Homo sapiens: one gene and its partner. The protein of the gene in region 1 purifies or fractionates together with the protein of each later gene. This does not show direct contact. Each region holds a gene or a part of one and is shown in the gene's direction. Other genes may lie near its edges. The genes, in order: SS18L1 and BCL7A.

Evidence for each region.
Region 2: the proteins of SS18L1 (region 1) and BCL7A purify together in Homo sapiens (affinity purification with mass spectrometry; 2 studies listed by BioGRID and IntAct, with this or other methods). This does not show direct contact.

Annotation. Positions count from the first base shown.
Region 1 is NC_000020.11:62,160,615-62,167,883, forward strand, and holds part of SS18L1 (calcium-responsive transactivator), read left to right. Parts: exon of another isoform or gene 1-821; coding exon 822-966; intron 967-2,137; coding exon 2,138-2,317; intron 2,318-2,843; coding exon 2,844-3,008; intron 3,009-3,530; coding exon 3,531-3,632; intron 3,633-4,807; coding exon 4,808-4,900; intron 4,901-7,269. UniProt on the Homo sapiens protein: Transcriptional activator which is required for calcium-dependent dendritic growth and branching in cortical neurons. Recruits CREB-binding protein (CREBBP) to nuclear bodies.
Region 2 is NC_000012.12:122,038,674-122,045,942, forward strand, and holds part of BCL7A (B-cell CLL/lymphoma 7 protein family member A), read left to right. Parts: intron 1-5,212; coding exon 5,213-5,380; intron 5,381-7,269.

The DNA of each region.
Region 1 (7,269 bases):
GACGAGGTCGTGCTGCTGCAGCCTCTGTCCTGCTGACGGGGTTCCGGGACAGACATGTCGCCGGGAATGACGTATCTCCTAGTGACCCTTAGTCCTCGGCAAGTGATGACATAAATGCCAGGATGTGTCTTGCGAGTAAAAATGTTAAACCCACCTCCATTGACCTGTCAAATTGCACTTCTTCACCCTGCAGACACCCACAGGTCCTGGTGGAAATTTCCTTTTCTTGGCCAGGTGTAGACAGCATGTGTGTGCAGACCTCCAGAGCTGCTGGTTGACCTTGATCTGGGAGAGTGCTGAGGGCCACTTCACACTCACTCCCTTCTGTGCGGTGTGATCCGAGGCGGGTGTGGGGTGGGGGTAGTCGGGGAAGGGGCACATGCAGCAGGAGCACGGGAAACAGGAGAGGGATCCCACCTCTGCCGAAGCTCTTGGCACGGAGGGGTCGTGGTTGGGGAGCACAGAGGCGCTGGTCACCTGCGCCCGAGGGGGACGGGGTGCGTTCAGCCTGGTGGGCCGGGAAAGGGGTTCCCTGCTGTCCCAGGAGGAGGTCCAGCTTTTCACACCCAGGCACGTGTGGATGAACTTGATACTCAGTAGGGTTGTGAACGCTCACCCAGATGCTCACTCTGCCATCTCCATCTGGGCCTGGTGCTCTGCGGTCACCTGGCTGTGACGATGGCTGCTGATTACGAACATTGACCAGGTGGCCATGATGTGTGGCGGCAAATCTCGGGTGCCCTCTCATCCCTGGCCTGGCTTGTGGAGGTCGCTCTCCGTAAATTAACCGTTTTTCCCTGAAAACTTCCTGTTGCCTGCAGCCGCCCACGCAGAACATGAACCTGGGCCCTGGAGCCCTGACTCAGAGCGGCTCCAGCCAGGGCCTGCACTCTCAGGGCAGCCTGAGTGACGCCATCAGCACGGGCCTGCCACCCTCCTCCCTCCTGCAGGGCCAGATTGGCAACGGTGAGTGCGGCGGGGGAGGAGGACGTTCCTGGCTACGAGGCCACCAAGGCAGCCCTTGGGCAGCCGGCTGCCATGGTGGGGCACCCCACCCCTCACAGGGCTGGGCATGGGACCCACTCCTCCTGGGGTAGCCACAGGTCGGCTGCCATCGCCCAGGCTCAGGGCCGCAGCGAGCGTGCCGTGCGGCTGGGCTGAGCCCCTGCTCCAGTTGTCCACTCTCTCTGACACTGTCACGTTCCATCAAATTCAAATGCAAGTTGCGGGGTTCCAGGTGGATTGTGTAATAGGAATGGAATGCTCCTGTCTTTGGATTGAGAAGCATGGATAACGTTTGGAGACCATTAACAGTAATATAACAGGCCGGGTGTGGTGGCTCAGATCTCTAATCCCAACCCTTTGTGAGGCCTAAACCAGCAGACTACTTGAGGCCAGGAGTTTGAGACCAGCCTGGGCAATATGGCAAAGCCCCATCTTTACAAAAAATAAAAATATTAGCCGGGTGTGATGGTGCACACTTGTAGTCCAAACTGTTAAATACTCGGGAGACTGAGGAGAGAGGGTCACTTGAGCTTGGGAGGGTGAGGCTGAAGTGAGCCTTGTTCATGCCACTGCCCTGCAGCCTGGGTGACAGAGCCAGACCCTGTCTCAGAAAATAATAACAAAATAACAACAAATAAACGATTCATCCTGTGCTTTGCTAGCATGTACGCTGCTTTGTTTTCTTTTCTTTTTTTTTTGAGACAGAGTCTCGCTCTAGTCGGCCAGGCTGGAGTGCAATGGGCATGATCTTGGCCCACTGCAACCTCCGCCTCCCGGGTTAAAGCAGTTCTCCGGCCTCAGCCTCCCAAGTAGCTGGGATTATAGGCACGTGCCACCACACCTGGCTAATTTTTTTGTATTTTTAGTAGAGACGGGGTTTCACCATGTTGTCCAGGCTGGTTTCGAACTCTTGACTTCAGGTGATCCACCCACCTCGGCCTCCCAAAGTGCTGGGATTACAGGCATGAGCCACTGCTCCCGGCCACTTATTTATTAGTCACTTAATCATTAATAGTGCTGTTGATAGCAACTCTTCCCAAAGTCACTTGAAGGGAAATTGGGGTGTCTTCACCTTCAGAAGTGGTGACCTGGCTCCCCAGTGCCTGACACCACTCCCTGCTCCCCATGCCAGGGCCGAGCCACGTGTCCATGCAGCAGACGGCGCCTAACACGCTGCCCACCACCTCCATGAGCATCTCTGGGCCCGGCTACAGCCACGCGGGACCCGCCTCGCAGGGCGTCCCCATGCAGGGGCAAGGCACCATCGGCAACTACGTGTCTCGGACCAACATCAACATGCAGTCCAACCCAGGTACCTACTCTGCCTCTGCAACCCCGGGGGGCCTGGGCCTGCCTCCAAGACCCTTGACACATGCACGTTGGACATGTGGTCCCGGGGAAGCTGCCCTCCTGCTGGGTGCTGGAGGGGAGGGGCCCGTGAATCGGGGCTGGCCGCTGCCTCTGAGAGCTTCCGGAGGGATGGGCGCCAGTGGGTGCACGATCAACTCCTCCTGTCCCCCAGCTTTGCGAGGGGCTGGGGTGTTTCCCATGGAGTCTCAGGGAATGCCCCAGGGAGTGGGGGCCACTGGCCCTGGGTCTGGACAGACAGCACTGGGCTCTCAGAGGTGGGGTAGAGTCGGTGCAAGCAGCGGGTCTGAGCTTGCAGGGCGTCAGTGCAGGCCACGTAGGGGAGGCGTGCCTTGCGGTGGAGGACGCTGTCCTCGTGGGGAGCACAGGAAAATAACGAGGAACCCGCCCGGGCGCAGGAGGTAGTTGGGTGTGGGAGGGAGGGCGGGAGGCTTCCCGGGGTGATGTGGGGCCTCTGTCCTGTCGTTCAGTCTCCATGATGCAGCAGCAGGCGGCCACGTCGCACTACAGCTCGGCGCAGGGCGGCAGCCAGCACTACCAGGGCCAGTCGTCCATCGCCATGATGGGGCAGGGCAGCCAGGGGAGCAGCATGATGGGGCAGCGGCCCATGGCGCCCTACCGGCCCTCCCAGCAAGGTAACGCCCGGCCGGGCCAGGTCGCGGGCACAGCTGACCGCCGCGGGTCGTGAAGTGCCAGGCTGTGTGTGCTTCTCTTCGGGGAGCCTGGGGGAGTGAGGCGGGGAGCCTGGGGGAGTGAGGCTTGGCGCCTTGGTGTTAACATTGAGTGTGGACCCTGGGGGTGAGGGCCAGGGTGTGGCCCGTGGAGGGTCTGCTGTCCCCGAGGAGTCAGTGTTGGGGGCAGGGGCGGCAGTTGTCATTAAGAGTGTCACAGGCCGGGCTCATGCCTGTAGTCCGAGCACTTTGGGAGGCCGAGGTGGGCGGATCACCTGAGGCCAGGTGCTCAAGACCAGCCTGGCCAACATGGTGAAACTCTGTACTAAAAATACAAAACATAAGTTGGATACGATGACAGCGTGGGGTGTTCTCCTCGGGTGGGTGAGGCCATTCAGCAAGGCCTTGGCTTCCCCAGTGAGCGAGCAGGTCCTCTGAGGGAGGAGGGCGCGGCCCGCACTGGCGCTGAATGTGGTTCCCCCGCAGGCTCTTCCCAGCAGTACCTGGGCCAGGAGGAGTACTATGGCGAGCAGTACAGCCACAGCCAGGGCGCCGCGGAGCCCATGGGCCAGCAGTACTACCCCGACGGTGAGCACTGGCGGCGGCCTGACCCCGCCCAGGAACGCAGAGCAGCTGCAGGGGCAAGGAGGGCAAGGAGGGCAAGGAGGGTGTGGCCACTGCAGTGTGTCCTCAGTCATTCCAGCTCAGGCCTGGGCTACAGGCAGAGTGGCCAGACGCCCTGCAGGAGCAAGGTAGGGGATGGGGTGAGCTGGGCTGGCAGTGGTGCCTGGCCTCTGCAGAGAGAAGCTGTGGCACACACCGCTGCACTGGCCTCCACGCGGCCTTGCCTCTACTTCCTGAAAGGCTGTGGGAGTTGGAGGCGGATAATTGTAGCTCCTAGCTGTAGATAGGTGGAAATGTTCAAGAAGGCGCCTCCCAGCTTCACAGAGAATGCCCTGAAGGTGACGGCTCCACCTGCAGCACCTCTCCTCCTGCACCTTCTCATCTCTGCAGAGTATTTTACCGTCGTCACCTTTCAGTCTTTGCATAGTCCCAGGGCTTGTGGAAGGGATACTGAAAGTGGTCTTGGCTGAAAACAGCGGTTCACACCTGTCATTCCGGCACTTTGGGAGGCTGAGGCAGGAGGATCGCTTCAGCCCAGGAGGTTGAAGCTGCATTGAGCCATGATCGCACCACCACACTCCAGCCTTGGTGACAGAGCAGGATCCTGTCTCTAAATAAAGTAAAAATAACAATAAAATAAAGTGGTCTTAAAGGCTGGATTGATCCCTGGGAGGCATCCAGGCAGGGAGCTGGCCTCAGCCAGCAAGGGGCAGGTGCACAGACAGGTGGGCAGGTGGCAGCAGGGCAAGCCACCCTGGCCACGTGATGGTCACATGCAGCGAAGGCCTCGGTAAGGGTTGGACACCCCTGCCTGCGTCCTCCCAGGAGCTAGCGGTGGCGGGGAGAAGGCAGTCGGGTCACTAGCATGGCTGTGTGGCAGGCACTGAAAGCGCTGATCCTCTGCATAAATCCCCAGGTAGCTTCACAGTCGCCCCGAGAAGGAGGCATTGATGTCTGCATTTCAGTGGGGAGGCCGAGGCTCAGGAGGTTGGGGCATGGTTTTGGGGAACACGGGTCCTGCCGGCTCTTGTTGCCTCCCTGGCCAGACAACATCTCCCCAGCCTGGGTCTCAGTTGCCTCCTCCGGGACCTGTGCAGTGCACAGCCTCCGCTGACTGTCGCCGTCTCCGTTTCGCACAGGCCATGGCGATTACGCCTACCAGCAGTCATCCTACACGGAGCAGAGCTACGACCGGTCCTTCGAGGAGTCCACGCAGCACTACTATGAGGGGGGTAAGGAGCACGGCTGCGTGCTGGGCTCGAGCGTAAGCGCCACACGCAGCAGAGTTAAGACGCTGCACCCTTAGGAGCACGCGGTGCCTGCCTTCAGTGAGTCCCTTAAATCACAGCACAGCGCGTGGGAGGAGAGACAGTGTGTTCTGGAAGCTGGAAATTCAGGCTGTGTCGGGAGCCCCGCTTGCCTTATGGGTGTGTTCGTGAGACAGGAAAGGATTCAGCCGGCCATGCTGGGGTTGGGGGCACAGACTTGGTTATTGGGTCCAGCCAGGGAGCGTGGGGCCTGCGACAGGAAGGATTCAGCCGGCCATGCTGGGGTTGGGGACACAGACTCTGTTATTGGGTCTGGCCAGGGATCGTGGGGCCTGCGAGCCACTCTCAGAGCTTCCTCAGCTGGAGGCCAGCAGTGGCTGCGCTGGGTGTGGCCTCGCGTTTCTTCAGACACCTGCAGGCCAGGAAACGCACATCTGTGGCTGGGGGCTTGCCGCCCTTCATGGCGGTCCTGGGCAGTGCTGCGCTGGGGGCTGCGTGTCGGGTGGACTTGCCCCTTTCTGTGGTGTCTGTGCCCCCACCCTGGCTGCCCTGAAACCCCAACAGAACATCCCAGAATGTGGAGTTGGGAAGAGGTACACACAGCCCGTTCCAGTCCCACCCCGGGATAAAGATGGCCCCCAGAGAAGAGCTGATGATCGCCTGCGGGATTGCGCAACCTCGTCCGGGAGGGAAGGCGGGCCTGCAGTCCCTGGGGAGAGGGGCCTCGTGTCTGCTGACGCTGACCGGCAGGCAGCAGTGGCTGAGGCCTTCCCACTGCAGGGCTGCAATTTATCAAGAGGTAACAGTGTTGGTGAGGCTTCACCAGGTACACAAAGCAGGCAGGCACTAAACGGCTACAGATTTCCTTGTTTGGGTTACTTCTTAAAGAATTGGATGTGTAAAGGTTTTGCTTCTGAGCTTACACATCTCAGCCTGCTGTGAAGAAATAAAGCACGCAAGTGTAGGCACATATAGAAACATCACGGTGTGCGCTACGAATGCCTGCAACGTTGAAATGTCAGTTACACCTTTGTAAACCTGGGGGAAACAAAAAGTACATGAATACATAATGAAAGTTTAAAAGAAGAAAGAGCCTAGGTGTTGTGGCTCACGCCTATAATCCCAGCACTTTAGGAAGCTGAGGTGGGTGGATCACCTGAGGTCAGGAGTTTGAGACCAGCCTGGCCAACACGGTGAAACCCCGTCTCTACTAAAAATACAAAAATTAGTTGGACGTGGTGGCATGTGCCTGTAATCTGAGCTACTCAAGAGGCTGAGGCAGGAGAATTGCTTGAACCCGGGAGGTGTAGGTTGCAGTGAGCTGAGATCATGCCATTGCACTCCAGCCTGGGCAACAAGAGTGAAACTTTGTCTCAAAAAAAATAAAAAGAAATAAAAAAAAGAAATGGCCAGGCATGGTGGCTTACGCCTGTAATCCCAGCACTTTGGGAGGCCAGTGGAGGAGGATTGCTTGAGCTCAGGAGTTTGTTTGTTTTTTTTTTTTTTTTTTTTTGAGACGGAGTCTCACTCTGTCGCCGAGGCTGGAGTGCAGTGGTATGATCTTGGCTCACTGCCACCTCCGCCTCCCAGGTTCAAGCAATTCTCCTGCCTCAGCCTCTTGAGTAGCTCGGATTACAGGCCCCGCCACCACACCCAGCTAATTTTTGTATTTTCAGTAGAGATGGGGTTTCATCATGTTGGTCAGTCTGGTCTCGAACCCCTGACCTCATGATCCACCTGCCTCAGCCTCCCAAAGTGCTGGGATTACAGGCGTGAGCCACCGCGCCCGGCCGAGCTCAGGAGTTTGAGGCCAGCATGGGCAACATGGCAAAACCCTTTCTCTCCCGAAAAAAAAAAAAAAAATGCCGGGCGTGGTGGCGGGTACCTGTAATCCCAGCTACTCAGGAGGCTGAGGTGGGAGAATCGCTTGAACCCAGAGGCAGAGGTTGCAGTGAGTTGAGATTGCACTACAGCACTCCAGCCTGGGTGACCGAGCCAGACCCTGTCTCAAAACAAAAGCCACCCTGTGGCCAGCACCCAGAGGCTATCTTCTGGCATATTGGCTGCAGTGGTGCCTCCGTAAGCCCTGGGAGTCAGCAGGATCTCTGCCATCATGGGCCTGGCCCTGTCCCTTCCAGCTGGAGCACAGGGTTCAGCCTTGTCCATGGCGAGGTGTCCACATGCGTCTGCCCAAGGCTGCCACACTTTGTCCCAAAAACAAACGCAGGATGTGCTGCTCAGCCTTTTAGTGTCTGATGTAGCTACTTTTTTTTTTTTTTTAAAGAGACAGGGTCTTGCCCTATCACCTAGGCTGGAGTGCAGTGGCCTGATCG
Region 2 (7,269 bases), on another chromosome or scaffold:
ACACCAGAGGGCCTTTTCGAGCTGAGGCCAGGACCCCACCTGGGTTCACATCCTAACTCTCCCTGCACCTTCCCCTGGCTGTGTGATCTTGGGCTATTTGTTTAACCTCTAGCTTTGGGGTTTGTTTAGTTTTAATCTGTAGAATGGGGATGGTAATGCCTACTTCATAAACTCACTGTGAGGATTAAATTAAATAATCTCTTAAAAACCTTGGCATGGGACCAAGCACAGTGGCTCACACCTGTAATCCCAGCACTTTGGGAGGCCGAGTTAGGAGGATCACTTGAGCCCAGGAGTTTGAGACCAGCCTGGGCAACACAGGGAGACCTCATCTCTACAAAAAAAACAATAGGTGGTTCGTATCTATAGTCCCAGCATTCTGGGAGGCCAAGGCGGGCAGATCATGAGGTTGGGAGATCGAGACCATCCTGGCTAACACGGTGAAACCCCATCTCTACTAAAAATACAAAAAAATTAGCCAGGCGTGGTGGCTGGTGCCTGTAGTCCCAGCTACTCGGGAGGCTGAGGCAAGAGAATGGCGTGAACCTGGGAGGTGGAGCTTTCAGTGAGCCAAGATCACGCCACTGCACTACAGCCTGGGCGACAGAGCAAGACTCAGTCTAAAAAAAAATAGATTAAAAAAAAAAATAATAATAATAATAAATTTAAATTAGCAGGTTGTGGTGATGCGCACCTATAGTCACAGCTACTCTGGAGGCTGAGGATCATTTGAACCTGGGAGTTGGAGGCTGCAGTGAACAGTAATTGCACCACTGCATTCCACTCTGGGCAACAGAGCAAGACCCCATCTCTTAAATATATATATATATATAATATATATATTATATATATTATATAATATAATATATAATATAATTATAGTAAATATTTTATTTTGGGCCAGGTGTGGTGGCTCATGCCTGTCATCCCAGCACTTTAGGAGGCCGAGATGGGAGGATCATTTGAAGTCAGGAGTTGGAGACCAGCCTGGTCTCTATGGTAAAATCCCATCTCTACTAAAAATACAAAAATTATTGGGTGTGGTGGCACACGCCTGTAATCCCAGCTACTTGGGAGGCTGAGGCAGGAGAATCACTTGAACCTGGAGGCAAAGGTTGCAGTGAGCTGAGATCATGCCACTGCATTCCAGCCTGGGCGACAGAGCAAGACTCCATAAAAAAAAAAAATTATTTTACTGTATTCAAAAATAGAGACAGGGTCTTGCTATGTTGCCCAGGCTGTTTCCAAACTCCTGAGTTCAAGCAATCCTCCTCCCTCAACCTCCCAAAGTGCTGGGAGTATAGGCATGATCCACTGTGCCCAGCCTATAATAAAAATTTTAAAAACCTTGGCATGTTAACAGCTCACATTTATGAAACCGTCACAATGTGCCAAGTATTGTGCTAAGCCCGTTACATCATTGCCTCATTTGAGTCTAATAACCAACCGCATTTTACAGATGGAGAAACTAAGGCCCAGTGAGGTGAAGTAACATGCATGGTTAGCAAGTTCATAACTTCCAGTGCCATTGATGGCATTTGAGGTTGGTTCTTTGAAGACAGAATCCAGGTTTGTGGCTGGCCGTGGTGGCTCACACCCATAATCCTAGGACTTTGGGAGGCCAAGTTGTGAGGATCGTTTAAGGTCAGGAGTTGGAGAGCAGCCTGGCCAAACAATGGTGAAACCCCATCTCTACTAAAAATACAAAAATTAGCCGGGCATGGTGGTGGGCACCTGTAATCCCAGCTACTCGGGAGGCTGAGGCAGGAAAATCCCTTGAATCGGGAAGGGGAGGTTGCAGTGAGCCAAGATTGCACCACTGCACTCCAGCCTGGGCAAGAGAGTGAGGCCGTGTCTCCAAAAAAAAAAAAAAAAAACCAAAAGATCCAGATTTGTGACCTGGATAAACTCTCCAGAAAAATCTAGGATGCTGAACAAACCAGGTCCCCAGACACAGGTGCCCTGTTGACTTTCTGATTTTCATTTTAGTGCACGTGCAGCCGAAAGCCAGTCAGACTGCAGAGTGTGTAAATGGGAAGGTCAGGGAAAGGTGTGGGCCGGGCAAGTTTTCTGGAAGGCTTCAAGTGGGAGGATGGGTACAGCAGGGGATGAAGGAGAGGGCGGTGCCCCGGGCCCTTTAGTCCACAAGACTCAGCTGAAGTTAGCCCAAGTATCAGGGTCACGCTGTTACCAGGCTACCAGGCTAGACCAGACGTTAAACATTAGTGCTCATTGTCATTCATTAACAGAGCCTCAGGAACCTACGGGGCCAGCCTCTTGCGCGTGTGCTTGCCATAGGAAGGAAGTCTAGTTTTTCTCAAGGGAGAAATCGGGGAGCACACATCCTTCTTTTTTTTTTTTAAGTCCCAGAATTCACAAGAGGATGCTTTTGTGTAACGAGCACCCCAGAGTACAGTTAAAATCAGATCCAGGTTACCCGTGTGGGGCCGCCTGACTGCCTGGTGCTTCCTCGGCAGGTTGAGGTAGAGGAGGGGCGTGGGGCTGGGAGTTGGGCAGATGGGTCCGGCAAGTGGCTCTGCTGCTCCCAGCCTCAGTTTCCCCCTCCGGAAAGTGAAGGTGGTAACGGTGCCTTTCCAACGGGTTGTGGGGAGGATTCCACGAGGTGTCCATAAATGCTTCTGCCCAGTGCCTGGCATGGTGGCAGGTGCCCAGGTCTGTTGGGGTGTCTCTGTCTCTTTCTCATGTTTACAAAAGTGGCCATCGCCCCGGGTGCAGCATGGCCCCCAGAAAGGCTGCTTTGGTTTTGAAACCTCCACTTGGGTCTCTGCTGTTTAAAACGACTCTCCTAGGTTGGGCACAGTGGCTCAGGCCTATGATCTCAGTGCTTTGGGAGGCCAAGACAGGAGGATCACTTGAGCCCAGGGGTCCAAGACAGCCTGGGCAACATAGTGAGACCCCATCTCTACAAAAAACTTAAAAATTAGCCAGATGCAGTGGCACATGCCTGTGGCCCCAGCTACTCAGGAGGCAGAGGCAGGAGGATGGCTTGAGCCTAGGAGTTCGAGGCTGCAGTGAGCTATGATTGTGCTGCTGTACTCCAGCCTGGGCAACAGAGCAAGACCCTGTCTCTAAAAATAAAAAATACATAAATGGCTGGGTGTGGTGGCTTACTCCTGTAATCCCAGCACTTTGGGAGGTTGAAGCGGGCAGATCACCTGAGGTCAGGAGTTCAAGAGCAAGCCTGACCAACATGGCGAAACCCCGTCTCTACTAAAAAATAATAAAAACAAAAGTTAACTGGGCATGTTGGTGCATGCCTGTAATCCCAGCTACCTGGGAGGCTGAGGCATGAGAATCGCTTGAACCAGGAGGTGGAGATTATAGTGAGCCGAGATCGCGCCACCGCACTCCAGCCTGGGTGACAGACTCCATCTCAAAAAAATAAATAGAGTGACTCTGTGCCTGAGAAGGGGGTGCAGGACAAGGGGAGGTGCAGCCCGGGCCCCAGCTCTGCCCCCAGCCCAACTGTAAATGCCATTGCCCAATTACCCCTTCTCTTTCTTCTTTGTATTGTGAAGGGTTTTGTTGTCAAGAACAGTAGAGAGAGGAATACGATCCCCCTGTACACTCCACCTTGATTTTCATGAACACGGTGCCACATTTGTCTCATCTATTTTTTCAATGTGTTAGATTTTTGTAATTAAAATATAATTCACATATAAAAAATACACAGCTAGTGGCCGGGTGTGATGGCTCACACCTGTAATCCCAGCACTTTGGTAGGCTGAGGTGGGCAGATCACCTGAGGCCAAGAGTTCGAGACCAGGCTGGCCAACATGGAGAAACCCGTCTCTACTAAAAAATACAAAACTCAGCCAGGTATGGTGGCAGGCGCCTGTAATCTACTTGGGAGGCTGAGGCAGGAGTATTGCTTGAACCCAGGAGGTGGAGGTTGCAGCGAGCCCAGATCGCGCCATTGCACTCCAATTTGGGCGACAGAGCAAGACTCCATCTCAAAAAAAAAAAAAAAAAGTGTAAAAGTTCAGGGAGTCCTGACAGTGGCCGGCAGCCTGCACTGAAGTATTTTCTGGTAAATTTCCCTGCCTCATGACATTCAAGTCTGCACCTAAACGTCATAGCATGCATTGCTGAAAATATGACGTTTCTACATACCCACTGTCCCATGATCACTTCTAACTAAATTAACAACAGTTCCTTAATAGCTTTTAAAACCCAGACCATATTCAAATTCCCCAATTGTTCCAAAGTGTTACAGCTGGCACGTTTGAAACAGGATCCAAATCATTTCCATACATCATATTTAGTCGAGTCTCCTAGCTTTCTTTATTCTAAAGTCATCTCCCCTCCCCCAACTTTTTTTTTTTTTTAAATATGATACTGACTTTAAGGGAGTGGACCACGTGTCCCGTGGAATATGCCACCTCCCGCTGTCTCTCTCTCCCTTTTATTTCCTATCAAGTGGAACTCAGCTCCAGGCTGGATGCAGTCAGACAGAACGCCTTGGCAATCCCGCCTCACGGACCATGCCGTGTCTTCTGTATCGCTTCCCTGCCAGACACACAAGACGTCTGGTTTCTACACCCAGAATGAGGCCTCAAATGTCCCCCCAGGATTTTAAATATGTTAGGCCACCATCCCCAGCTGGCTGCCTCCAGACGCAGGGTACAGTTGGCTCAGTGTGGGGAAGGTCAGGCCAGTGCCGGAATTCTTTGCCTCTCTGGACACATGGGATGGCTGTGGTGCTTGGGTGGGTGGGTGGGTGGGGGTCAGGGGGCGGGAGTGAGCTCAGGGGTCCCAGGAGGAGGCGTATCCAGTATCCAGACCCCTACCACACGGCCGGGTGCAGTGGCTCAACGCCTGTAATCCCACCACTTTGGGAGGCCGAGGCAGGAGGATTACCTGAGGTCAGGAGTTCGAGACGGGTCTGGCCAACATGGTGAAACCCCATCTCTACTAAAAATACAAAATTAGCCAGGCGTGGTGGCAAGTACCTGTAATCCCAGCTACTCGGGAGGTGGAGGCAGTGAGCCAAGATTGCACCACGGTCCTCCAGCCTGGTTGACAGAGCGAGATCCGTCTCAAAAAAAAAAAAAACGGTAACCAGACCCCTCCCCGGGAGAGCTGCCATGGGGTTCCGGGCATTGAGGCACAGGGATGCTGAGCCCTCTGACCTACCCGTCCTTGGCAGCTGTGGGATTTCATCCTGTGGTTCTGTTCCCACCCCCTACAGACGATAACAGCAACCAGAGCTCCATCGCAGATGCCTCCCCCATCAAACAGGAGAACAGCAGCAACTCCAGCCCCGCTCCAGAGCCCAACTCGGCTGTGCCCAGCGACGGCACCGAGGCCAAGGTGGATGAGGCCCAGGCTGATGGGAAGGAGCACCCAGGAGCTGAAGGTATGTGGCCTCTGGAGGTGGGGCTCTGACGGCCTCCCTGTAACCGGCCTTCAGGCAGTCTGTGGCTAGGTGTTCCAGGAGGCCCTGTCATGTGCCAGCCCCAGCAAGGAGACAGTAAAGAGAGGTGACACCTGGAGTACATGGTCTCGTGGGGGAATTAAAAAAATCAGACAGGCCAGGTGCAGTGGCTCATGCCTGTAATCCCTGCACTTTAGGAGGCCAAGGTGTGAGGACTGCTTGAGCCTAGGAGTTCAAGACCAGCCTGGGCAACATAGCAAGACCTCATCTCTACCAAAAAAAAAAAAATAGCCAAGTGTGGTGGCACACACCTGTGATCCAGCTACTCAGGAGGCCGAGGTCGGAGGATCACTTGAGCACAGGAGGTCAAGACTACTACAGTGAGCCATGATCATGCCTCCGCACTCCAGCCTGGGTGACAATAAGACCCTGTCTCAATAATAAGTAAATAAATAAAAATCAAACAATTGGCCAGGCATGGTGGCTCACACCTATAATCCTAATGCTTTGGAAGGCTGAAGCAGGAGGATCACTTGAGGCCAAGAGTTTGAGACCAGCCTGGATAGCATAGCAAGACCCTGTCTCTACAAAAAAATGCTTTAAGATGAGCTGGGCATGGTGGCATGTGCCTGTGGTCCCAGCTACTCAAGAGGCTGAGGCGGGAGTATCCCTTGAGCTCAGGAGTTGGAGGCTGCAGTGAGCCGTGATCACACAACTGAACTCCAGCCTGGGTGACAGAGTGAGACCCTGGCTCAAAATATAATTATATTAATAAATTTTAAATGTATTTAAAAATCAGACAACCTAGTATTAGGAAGATAAGTGTGGCAGAGAATTATAAAGTAGGAAAGGGGTGGGGGGTCTTGCTGAATGACCTGGAGAGTTGCAGTTTTAAATGGGGTGGTCGGGGCGGCCTTTGAATAAGACAAGGCTCAAACTGGGCGACTGAGCAAGCCATGTGGGGATCTGGGAGGAGAGCAGTGTGGGCAGAGGTAAGAGTGAGTGAGGAGCTGGAAAATAAGATGGGCACCAGGCGCGGTGGCTCACGCCTGTAATCCCAGCACTTTGGGAGGCCGAGGCAGGCGGATCACTTGAGGTCAGGAGTTCAAGACCAGCCTGGCCAACACGGTGAAACCCTGTCTCTACTAAAAATACAAAAATTAGCAGAGTGTGGTGGCATGTGCCTGTAATTCCAGCTAGTCAGGAGGCTGAGGCAAGAGAATCACTTGAACCCAGGAGGCGGAGGTTGCAGTGAGCCGAAATTGTGCCATTGCACTCCAGTCTGGGCGATAGAGCAAGACTCTGTCTCAGAAAAATTTTAAAAAGTTAATAATAATACGGGGTCAGACAGCAGGCAGCGCCTCAGGTGTGGGGGGCTCGTAAGGCCACTGCCTGGCCTGGGTTTTCATGGTAAGACGGGAGCCACTGGGGGCTTGGGTGACATGATCTGAAGGATTAAGAACAGATGATGGGGTGATTGTGTGAGAGTGTGTGTGTGATTGTGTGAATGTGTACACAAATATTTGTGTGTGTTTATTTTGAGTCTCTACAGAAAAATTAAAAGAATGGCATAATACTGTCCTATATATCCACCTGCTGAACTTGGCAATTGTTGGCTTTTGGGTTTCTTTTGCTTTGTATTTTTTCTGGGACCATTTGAAAGTAAGTTATAGATCTCAGGACATTTCATCCCTAAACATGTCAGCACGTGTCTTTTAAAAATAAAGACATTCTGGGCTGGGCACAGTAGCTTATGCTTATAATCTCAGCACTTTGGGAGGCTGAGGCAGGAGGATCTTTTGAGCCCAGGAGTTCAAGACCACCCTAGGCAAGAAGACGAAACCCCGTCTCTACAAAAAATATAAAAATGA